Linked DNA regions of Homo sapiens: region 2 is linked to region 1. The links come from fine-mapping of genetic effects on gene expression. A gene starts in region 1. The other region holds a variant in brackets. All regions are shown on one strand. Distances are between the middles of the regions.

Region 1 (5,376 bases):
AAAAAAAAAAAAAGAAAGAAATGTAAGTCAAGATTAAAGACAATGGGTGAGATCAGCAAGGAGCATGTGTGCGGAGAAGAGAACACCAAGGAAGGCTGCGTGTGGTGGGAGGTGGCCGGGGGGCAGAGAAAGAGGCGGCGGAGCCAAGGAGATAGGGCATCGTCTGAATGGTGATGCTGTATCAACAGATGTGAAATTCCCAGAGGTGTGAAACACAGCAGATCCTTTACAGCACGATGACAGGACACAGCATGAGCCTACCTCTGCCAGGTGAGAGGAGCTTTCTGCAACCTGTGATGGGCTCAAGGATGCTGACCATTCATCCGCCCATTGGGATAGCCCAGGCTCTGAGCTCAGCACTCCACCCGTCACTGCGATTGCACTAATCCTCACCCACCCTTGCAGGCAGGTATTACTGTGGGCACAGAGAAGTTTGCTAACTTGCCAGAGATCCTGTGTAGGAAGCCAGGTCAGGAAACAACCAGAGTCTCTCTAACAGCCCAGGCCTTGAATGAACACCGGCCTGCTTCAGAATACATGGCCCGTGATGTGTTTGAATTCACAGATTCACTGGACAGGTTCCCTATAGGGCCTGTGAGGAAATCTGGTCTAACAGAATCCAGAAAGACAAATTTCGCTAAACAGGTCAAGCCTGATACTGCTGCTACACTTCAGCTGTGTTAAGCCACTCGGTTATCAGACCTGCTTCTCCTTTCATGATTTTAGTAACACAGGCCTCTTCCTTGGGCCCCTGTTGCTCCCACCATCTCCCAGGTTCTCTTGTACTCAGGGTTTAGTCTCCCCTCCCCACTACTAATGATGCATGTGCCTTACTCTCTGATCATCTCTCCTAAATCTGCTACTCCTCTGCTCTTTCTGTGCCTTATCTATCCCTGCCGAGTCTAACATGCAGATTTTGGTCATTCCAAAGTCATGTATAGATCTAATCACAGGGCTCTCTGCTTACCAGCTGCTACTTGGATAAGGAAAGCATGCCAACACGGTCCTCCTTCTTCATGCTGGCCAAGTCAGCATCATTATTATTACCTAAGTTTATTTCTAACACATCTCAATATCTTCATGCACTCCCTCTTGATAAAAGTAACTGAGCATAGCACCATCAATACCATCAAATCTGTCATTCTCTTCCCCTCTCTCTGGGTGGGACAGGAAGCCAGGCTGCTCTAGGAAATCTTCCCTAACAAGCAAAGGGGACTTGCCTGTCCTCTCGCATGTGTGATCTGAGCTTGTGTGGATCCCAGAGTGGGCATTCTGGACTACTTGACCTTGCCTATCTCTCCTTCACACCCTCTCATCTCTCCCTCCTACCACCAAAAAACTTGCATCGTATTTCCAATCTCCAGACATACTTTTGAAACCATTTATCTATCTGGTGTGTTTATCTGTATCTAGTATGATGTGAATATGTGATTTGTATGTGTGTCTACCACTGTTTTGGTCAGTTTGTATTTCTCGTGGGTACAGTTCTATGTGCTCATGTATGTGGAACATATGTATACTGACACATGGACCTAGCTCCAAATGATCTGAAAGGAATATAATTGTAATTGAATATTTGCACAGATATACAACATACACATGTGATGGCTGGGGGAAATGCATGTGGGATTTCAGTCAGCATTTTATTAGAGAAGGTATGTCATTAGTGCTGTATTAACAATGAATCAGCTTATTTGTGGGTCACTGTCAATGACTCCTTTGCAAATCACACATGTAAATATTTCTGTCTGTGGTCTGATGAACATGCAGTGCCACAGTCTGGGAGATGCTGAGCCATGCCCTGTGTAGGCAGCATATGAAAAGAACTGCATGATTTAAAAGATGCTGACCAGCTTAAGGAAAGCAATTTAAAAACTTCCTAAAAATCTAGTTTGAATGAACAACAGTTTTCATTTTGTGTGTGTGTTTTTTCTTTTAGAGATGGGGTCTTGCTATGTTGGCCACGCTGGTCTCTAACTCCTGGGATCAAGCAATCCTCCTGCGGCTCAGCCTCCCAAAGTGATGGGATTACAGGTGTGAGCCACCGTGTCTGCTGGCCCCACTGTTTTAAACCCTGATTCGACAATCATACATTTAACTCATTACCTGTCTTGTTCCTTTTACGACAAACTCAAAGCTTTTATTTTACTAAAGTATTTGGGTTAATCTTTTGCTTTTCTGTCATGTTCTGAAATATGTACAATAACAGAATCGCTCAAAATATTATCTCCGTTAAATGTTTTGTGGCTTTAGGGAGAGGTCTAACAACATGCGGGAAACAAGAAATCAAGCGCATCCAGGATTCATTTATAATCTCTCTCGTTGAGTAGAAGTCCGCATCTCTCGATATTGTCTGGTTACCTGCATGAAGTATTCTAAAGGAGGAAAATAGCTCAAAGAGGACATTCATGTGCACTCTGGCTTCCAGTTGGCCATTTGAGTAAGTGATCGCAATTAACTGACGAGCGGCAGGGAAACACTTCCTGGAATTCTCATCTACAGACAAGAACAAACTGGGGCGGGGCCCATCACCTTCACCTACGCGCCGGGAGGGTGGCGGCTGGCGGGCGGGGCCGGGCTCGGGCCGTGACGCCGAGAGTGCGGGGCGCGCGGCTGGGAGCCTCGCGCCCCCGCCCGGGCCCGCCCCCATCCCGCCCGCATACAGCCCGCATCCCGCCGGGGAAGCGAGCCCAGTCCAGCGCTGCCCGTCCAGTCCTCGCCCAAGATTTAAAGCCCGCAAGTTTTGTTCTTGAGACCAGCGACTTTAGCTCCGATGCGGGAAGGAAAGCCGACCTCCGATTTGGACATTTAAAGAGCTGGGCTTGAACTTCGTGAGTTTCGCTCTAAACTGCCCTTGAAATGAAGCTGGACTTGGAGGTAAAGTCACTGGGAAGCTGGCCTGGGGCGGGGTTTCCCCCTCTTCTCGTATTTTAGAAACGGACAGCGGCAGTGCAGCCCTAGTTTGCTGTAAGTTTCCTTACTTTGTTACTGAGGCCCCCAGAGCTCCACGCATAAGTGGTGTGACCAGAAACCTTTTAACAAGACCCGCCTGAGCCTGCGTTAGAGCTCCCGCTCGGAAAGTAAAAGACCATCCTAATCCGCGGCGCTGCGGAACCGGTGTCCCGTGTGGGAGGAACCGCGGCGTTCCCTGGGCGTAGGGCCCGCGAGGCCAGCACAGTCCGCCTCTTGGCGGAGCGCCCTGGGCCGGTGGTTCCGCGCGGAGTTAGTCTGTGGTCAGTTACGTGGTGAAAACACGGCTGTGCCGCGGCCGCATCTTTCCGCGGCCGAGGCCTCTCTGGGTGGGAGTGTTGGCTTCCTTTCCGGATCGCTAAATGGGGAAAGTTCTGGCCGCTCGGCGGGATACGTCTCCAGGCCACGGATGGTTCGTTCTCCGTGCCGCGGCCCCGAGCTGGGCTCCCTGGGTCTCCAGCGCGGGCTCCCGGCATTGGGGGCTGCGGGCCGGCCCCTCCGCCCCGCCCCCGCCCCGCCGCGCCTCCTCGGCCGAGCGGCTCGCGGTCTCCGGCGCGGGAGGCTCCGAGTCTGCCCACTCCGGGCCGAGCGAGGTCTCTGGAGGAGAAGAGTGGCGAGGAGGTGAGGGCACGCCGGCCCTCGCCCGGCGGGTGGCGCCAGGACTTCAGGTGGGAACGCGCGCTTGGGCCGGGGGCGCGTGGCTGGCGTGGACACCGGATCGGGGCCCGCCGCCCTGGCCCGGACCGCGCACGGCCCAGCGCCGGGAAGTCGGGAAGCCGGGGAGGCCTCTCCCACCGCGGGCCCCGGCAGCCCGCCCTCTGAAAGCGCGGCGGAGAAGGAGGCTCGTCCCCTCCCCGGAACGCCTTTGTTCCCTCCGGCCTGCCCGCGCGGGTGGCCAGCGGCTGGGACCCAGGCCGGGCCGCCGCCCAGGTGCGGCAGGTAGGCTCGGGGGCCGGGCAGCTCCGGTTGGGGCGGCTTCCCGGGGCCTGCGGGTCCCCGTCCCTGAGGAGCTCCGGCTCCTCGGTGGCGGGACAGGCCCGTGCGCGGGAGCCGCGAGGCGAACGCCGCGCCCACCAATTCGGTTGCCGGCCGGGGGCCCCAGGCTTGCGGCCACCCGCCTCCGGCTGGAGGGCTGAATTCGAGTCGAAAGCCCGTGTCGGGCTGGAAAGAAGAAACCGCCAACCTGAGAACGCTTTCGGCGAGTTACTGGCGGGGGAAATGGGGACAGGGAAGTGGGCAGGCGGGGAGACTGCAGCCGCAGATCTCCCTGGCGGGGAGGTCGTGGCCACTCTTTCCTTTGACTCTGCCTCATTTCATTTTGAATCCTGATGTGACAGAGGCAATTGCTTGCTTGGATACCATATAGGTAAAAGTAACAGTTTTCAACTCGACTCTTGACTACACCCTGTACATTCTTGGCCGGTGTTGGTTTTCTTAGGTTATGGATCATGTTAAAGGTACACCGATGTGGTAACCGCACAGTGGCCGATGGTGGCCTGAGGCTCATATTTATGGTAATTATCTGATGAAAGTACATCCATCAGAATTGGATTTGTGCGTCTGTGCCTTTATTTTGGGAAACCTTGCCTGTTCCCTGTGGGGGATGGGAGAGGAATGTGAAAAGCCGAAGTTGACCCAGAAAAGGATGATTGAAGGTAGTTGTATTAAGTGGTGGCACCGAAATGATTCCACCCTGAACTTTCTGAAAGGGTGATTAGTGATCAGCAGCAGACGTTATAACTTTCTCAAAATAAATTTATGGTAGATTTTCTATCTGGTCACAAGTGAGGAGGTGAAAGCTGCTTTTTGGGGCCAACTCTTTGCTTTTAAAGCAAGCTAAACGCAATACCAGAAAGGTTTCCATTCTGTACTTAACCTGCTTGTCCTTCTCACTCTTCCTTATCCTCCCGCACACGCTCTGAGCATTGACTGAGCACTCTGAGGAGGAGGCTGACTCAGGCTGACCCTTCCCGGCCCTGCAAGGCTCTAAGGTAGAACCAGTGTTATCACAGGAAAGGCCCAAGCCAAAGCTCAGAGCAGCTGTTCCTGAGAAAGTGGGAGATGAGGATGAGTAGGAGGTAGAGATGCTTATAACTGCTCTGCCCAGAGAAAACTCAGAAGGTGCAGAAGAGTTTTCAAAATAAAGTGCAGGCCCCATCAAGTAAAAAATGAAACATTGTATTTCATTAAAATGGTGATCAGTTTTCTCTTTTCATAAAAGACATTCAAATGGTGAGATTGTAAAAAAAAAAAAAAAGAAAAAGAAAACTTTCTAATTCTCAAAAATAGAACAGCTTGAATAATAACTCATGGGTTTTGAAATGGGTCATCTTTTAAAATGGGTCACTTTGGCTAGAATCATTGCACTTGGTGACTTTCACATTGTAAAGGGTCCAGTTCTTTCTG
Region 2 (5,376 bases), 39 kb before region 1:
GGAAAAAAACAGTCAGTAGGTGGTAAGAGGGGGGGCGAGCAGGCATGTGGGTGCACTTGACATATACAGGCGGGTCACACAGGTAAGAACCCCGGCTCCCTCCCCAGGCCCAGGCCCCAGAGGTGCTGTGGATCCTGGGTTTGCTCAGTTCCCATCTCCGCGAACTTGGCTTTGCCATCGTGACTTCTTGAGAAGCTGCAGGTCAGCTTTCCAGTAAGCCCATTATTACTGGAAGTGACTCGGGGGGAGTCGCTGGGTCTTTCAAGTCTGGCAGAAACATATGGGCACATATCCTCTGGGTCATGTTGCACAAATGTTCTCAGGACCACACATATGACGGTATTGCCCATCTCCACGCCCAAGGTCCGATCTCCAGCGGGTGAGCACATGCCCTACACGGTGCTGACCAAGGGCAGGCACACACACTGTTCACTGTGCTGTGTGGAGCTGCTCCGCCTCCAACAGGAAGCTGCAGGGACATTCCCTGAGCAGGAGCAAGAATGACCTTTTCCGTCACGTGTACCTTTTCTTTCCAACTAGACTGTAGTTGATCTCAAGGTCGGAGACCACGTTGCACAACCTCTTTCAGATACGTGTTCACCAGTATTTATTTATTTATTGGCATTCCCTAGTATTTATTTATTTATTGGCATTTAGTGGTGCTTGGGAGTAGGGGACAGGAAACAAAATACTCATCACTGTGAGGGAATATTGATTTATCCAAGGAGTTCATTCAGCGACGCCCCTGTACTGGGTTGAATAGTGTTCCCCCAAAAACTCATGTCTATGAGACCCTCAAAATATGATCTTATTCGGAAAGAGGGTCTTTGCAGATACAATTGGTTAAGATGGGGTTGCCCTGGGTTAGGATGGGTCCAAATCCAATGACTGGTATCCTTATAAAAAAAGAAAACAAAGAAATGGAGACGCACGCTGAGGGAACAGCCATGCAAAGGCAGAGGCAGAAATTGGAGTGGCACAGCTGTCAGCCAAGGAACTCCAAGAATTGCCGGCAGTCACCAGAAGCTCAGACGAGGTAAGGAAGGATTCTTCCTGAGAGCCCTCAGAGGGAACGTGGGCCTGCTCTCACCTTGCCTTTGGACGTCTAGCCGTCAAAACTGTGAGGGAATAAATTTCTGTTGTTTTAAGTCACGTACTTTGTGGTTCCTTGCGACATCAGCCCTAGGAAACGAATATACTTCCAACTGTTTTCCACCAGTAACAAAGAAGTGTGGCCATGTCACACGGTGTGTGGAAGAACCTGATGGTTGTGAACTCAGAGATGGAACATAGCGGCTACCTCAAATGAGCGAGCGATAAGTTAGATGGCCTCCTCTGTACAAGAAGTGATAGCAAAATCAATTAGTAAATGCTACCACTTTCACACCTGGGCATTCTGCAGGTAAGAGCCCCGATACAAGGATTTCAAATGTGACTACATTGGCCAAATGAAGAGTCTGGCTGAGAGAGTGAATCTAGGGAAGCTGGCCTCAGCAAGAGCTTCTTTTGGGTGCCCGTGTTTCCATTCCAGGTAGTAAGAGTTAATATGACTGTCACAAACTTACTGCACAAAGAAGCAGGAAACATCTGTATAAATGCGTCCACACAGAGCCTGAGTCCAGAAATGAAAAGCAGAAGCTGTGGGAGCCTGTGATTACAATAGTCAGGGGCAAAGAGGTATCTTCCTTTCCAGCTTGAGCAGGTCCCCATATAACGTACCACTAGGGCTGTTTATTCGGCATCTGTTGGGCGCCAGGCACAGTGCTTGGTGCCTTACCCATCATTTAATTCTCACTTACTCCCGGCAACCGCCTGTAATATAGGTATTGTGGGGGGGTGGGGGGGGTGGGGGGGTGGGGAATGAAGAAGATACTTTGCCTGGGTCACTAGGATTATTTACTTAGCCCTATCTCTGCAGCTAACACTGTGGTAAGGAAAGAGGAAACTGAAATAGAAATAAAATCCTGGCCCTAGCTCACAATGAACTTACAATACAAGTACATCCTTTAGTGGTTTATATAAATTTGTTCCAAAAAGGAAGACTGTTTCATTCAATCTTTACAAGTCAACTTTGGAACTTATCCCTGGCAAGTCAGAATTTAAATGCATCTCTAATATGCATTGGATTTGAAAAAAAAAAAAACTTTTGTTTTTTTTTTGCAAATAGATAGAAGTAAATTATAACTCAGTGTTCCACAAAACAAACTTGTTTGGAAAAGAATTTTAAACTTCTGTGATTAAATTAGACCCAGGACTAATTGAGTACACAGAAAAACAAGAAAATATAAATATCAGAAGGGATTTTTTTCTAGTTGCTTTCTAGTTGTTTAATTGTGATAATTTAATTATCACATTCAATTTCTTTCCTTTATAAAACCAGGTTAATATTAAATTTCAAGCAGAGAAACTAAGAGGTTAAACTGGACTCAGCCATGCATATAGCTGTAATTTATTACAGGTGATCATAAACACCTGTAATAAAACTCTACAAAATGGAGACAAAGAATCTCAGAATCATTTGAGCTGAGTTAGAGGCAGTTGTCAGTCAATTCTAATCAGAAACAGATAAAGAGTGGAATAGCACCCTGATAGGGAATGAACAAGAAATAGTCCAAGGTGACAGCCATGTAATCTTGAGTGAGTTAACTCTTCTTTCCATGGATCTTCTTTTGAATCAGAAGGTTGAAAATTCCAATATCTACTCCTCCATAATTCAACAGGATTATACAAAACTGTCAGGAGAAATTAGCTGATGTATTAGATGTAAAAGTAAGTTAAGTCTTAGTAGAAAAGGTACCAAAAAGCATCTGGCAGAGGCACAATTCTGAGGACACATGGTCAAAAAAGGTCCTTTGCTTTTTGCGTGTAAAATCTCCAAATTCTGTAAGCTG[G/A]TTCATCCTATTTGCATGCAAACTGGCTGGGAATGAAATTAGGGCAGAATGTTATTTGCTCATGTTTTAACCATTCTTTTCTCACAGCCTCCTCCTCCTATGTTATTTACACTGTTTCCTGCCCTGTGTATTGTTTCCAGGACATTCATTAGATTCAGGGAAATGAAATTTAATAGGGATGTCTAATACGTAATTCAAGATTTAAAAAGGAACAGAAAGATGCCCTGGATTGACCTAACAAATTGTTCCCTTGACTTTCCTCAGGCGAAGAAAGAAGAATTATTACCAAGAAAATGATCCTTATACACACCCTAACCCTACTCTGCAGTTTATGCATATCCTCTTGAATCATGCATCAGTTGTCATCAGAGACACCTTGGAGTCCCAGGGGACAGTAACAGCATCATGGCTGGGATCACAGCAAACCCCATGGGGCTAAGTTTCTGAGATCCAGGCCCAAGAAATACCAGCGTGGGAAGTAAAAATAACTCATTTTTCGGACCTTAATAACTTTCATGGTTTGATTTATGACAAGGAAAGAAAAGTCATTTCCTCTACCAAGACCTCAATACATGGTATGTTCAAAACCAAATAAAAATGAAAAGAAAAAAAAAGAGAAGGAAAAAGTATAATATAATCACAAGTGACAAAAACGCAGAAGAGGGGGTCACAGAGATGTGATGTAAGAAAAACTTGGCCGGGCACGATGGCTCTCACCTGTAATCCCAGCACTTTGGGAGGCGGAGATGGGTGGATCACGAGGTCAGGAGTTCGAGACCAGCCTGACCAACATGGAGAAGCCCCGTCTCTACTAAAAATACAAAAAAAAAAAAAAATTAGCAAGGTGTGGTGGCAAGTGCCTGTAGTCCCAGCTACTCAGGAGGCTGGGACAGGAGAATCGCTTGAACCTGGCGGGCAGAGGTTGCAGTGAGCTGAGATCATGCCATTACACTCCAGCCTGGGCGACAGAGCAAGACTCTGTCTCAAAAACAAACAAACAAAAAGAAGAAGAACCCAACCTGCCATTGCTGGTTTGTGCTTTATTACCTCTGCTCATAGAAGCCATGAGCCATGGAGCGTGGGTGGCCTTTTTAAGCTGGAAAATTCCAGGAGACAGATGCTAGACTCCAAAAAGGAAAGGAAACACCTTGATTTTAGCCCATGAGACTGTGTTGAACTTCTGACCTTGGAACTTCAAAATAATAATAATAATGAATTTGTGCTGCTCTAAGCCACCAAGCTTATGGTAATTTATTATGACAGTGAAATAAAACAAACACATCTGAATAAAAATCTAGAGTACTTCAAAGTAAAAAACAAAACAAGTCGAATATTAACTATGCTCCAGTCTCAAAGAGATCATACAGTTATAGGGGATGTTTTGCCTGGAATGCCTGGGACCAGCCTGCTCCGGATTAACACTGACGCTGGAGCTCAACTCCCCAGCATTGGCCTCTAACTGCATCTCTTGGGTTTTCTTTAGACTATTTGGATTAATGCATGTACACTATATACTTTTGGGGCCTCTTCTGGGATCTGTGATATAAAATTGGGGCAAGAATATAGGACCTGTTTCCAAAATACTTTTCTTAGAGAAACTCTGAAACAAGAAGACAAATCTTTTACTATTTTAATAGTGCCATGAGTTAGAAAATAAATTGCTCCTCCAGGACTTTTCCTCTGCCCATATATGTTCTGGCCCTTGACTTTCTGGTTTGTCCAGACAGTGGGTCAGTCCCACATTCAGAACCCTGAGGAATAAATCCAAGATTCCTGAAGATGCCAAGGGACAGCTTGGAATCTTGTAGTGCGGGTTTACTGAGCAATTTAGGCGACTGTCCTCAGAGTCCAATTCCTTTACCATAGACGATCTCTCTGACTTTGCCAGAGCATTTCCTCACTGTGTAGTATTGCACCTGCCTTTTGTGTGAGATGCTCTAACACTACTATGGAACATACCGGACATTCAGTCACTGCTGCTAGGTCCACAGCCAACTCACAGGACTTGATCAAATCCTCTATCACTGCCAAAGCTTGTTGTAGTTCAGTTGAGAATGCTGAATCTTTGGTTCTCTTTGGCCCATCCTGTGGAAAACAAATGCCTTGTTGGAAATCAAAAGTATACCATCTGCAAAGTGAAGAAGGAAAACAGGACAGAGATGAGGAGCCAGGGATCCAGCCAACCCTGACTGAGAAGGGTGGATATTGATCTGTCTCCCTGCTCCCAAAGCATGGTGGCTAAAGATGCTTACTGATTTAGGTATACGGCATAGAGACAAGCAAAATCATCTACCTCTGTGCATTGTACTAGTGACGAATGAAGTTCATAAATCATGGAAATTATATTCCTGCTACATAAGAAACATATAGAATTCAGCTATATAGCTGAATTCTATATGTTTCTTATGTGTATATATATTATATAAATATTTATATAGTATATTAAATATTTATATATTAATATATAATTATATGTTTATATATT

Evidence for each region. PIP is the estimated chance that this variant, and not a neighbour inherited with it, causes the effect.
Region 2: its variant is fine-mapped to the expression of B3GNT5 in fibroblasts (GTEx, PIP above 0.99).

The regions. Positions count from the first base shown.
Region 1 is chr3:183,250,596-183,255,971 of GRCh38, forward strand. It overlaps B3GNT5 (UDP-GlcNAc:betaGal beta-1,3-N-acetylglucosaminyltransferase 5), which reads left to right and starts at 2,658. Exons shown (of 2, transcript NM_032047.5): 1 at 2,658-2,877. The region is part of intron 15 of MCF2L2 (MCF.2 cell line derived transforming sequence-like 2); the gene reads right to left. It overlaps LOC124906310 (a long non-coding RNA gene), which reads left to right. Exons shown (of 3, transcript XR_007096189.1): 2 at 189-270; 3 at 1,940-1,960.
Region 2 is chr3:183,211,119-183,216,494 of GRCh38, forward strand. It overlaps MCF2L2 (MCF.2 cell line derived transforming sequence-like 2), which reads right to left. Exons shown (of 30, transcript NM_015078.4): 22 at 4,851-4,976. Among named protein-coding and RNA genes, the nearest start is that of B3GNT5, 39 kb to the right of the region's middle. The variant G/A (reference allele first, on the strand shown) is at 2,892.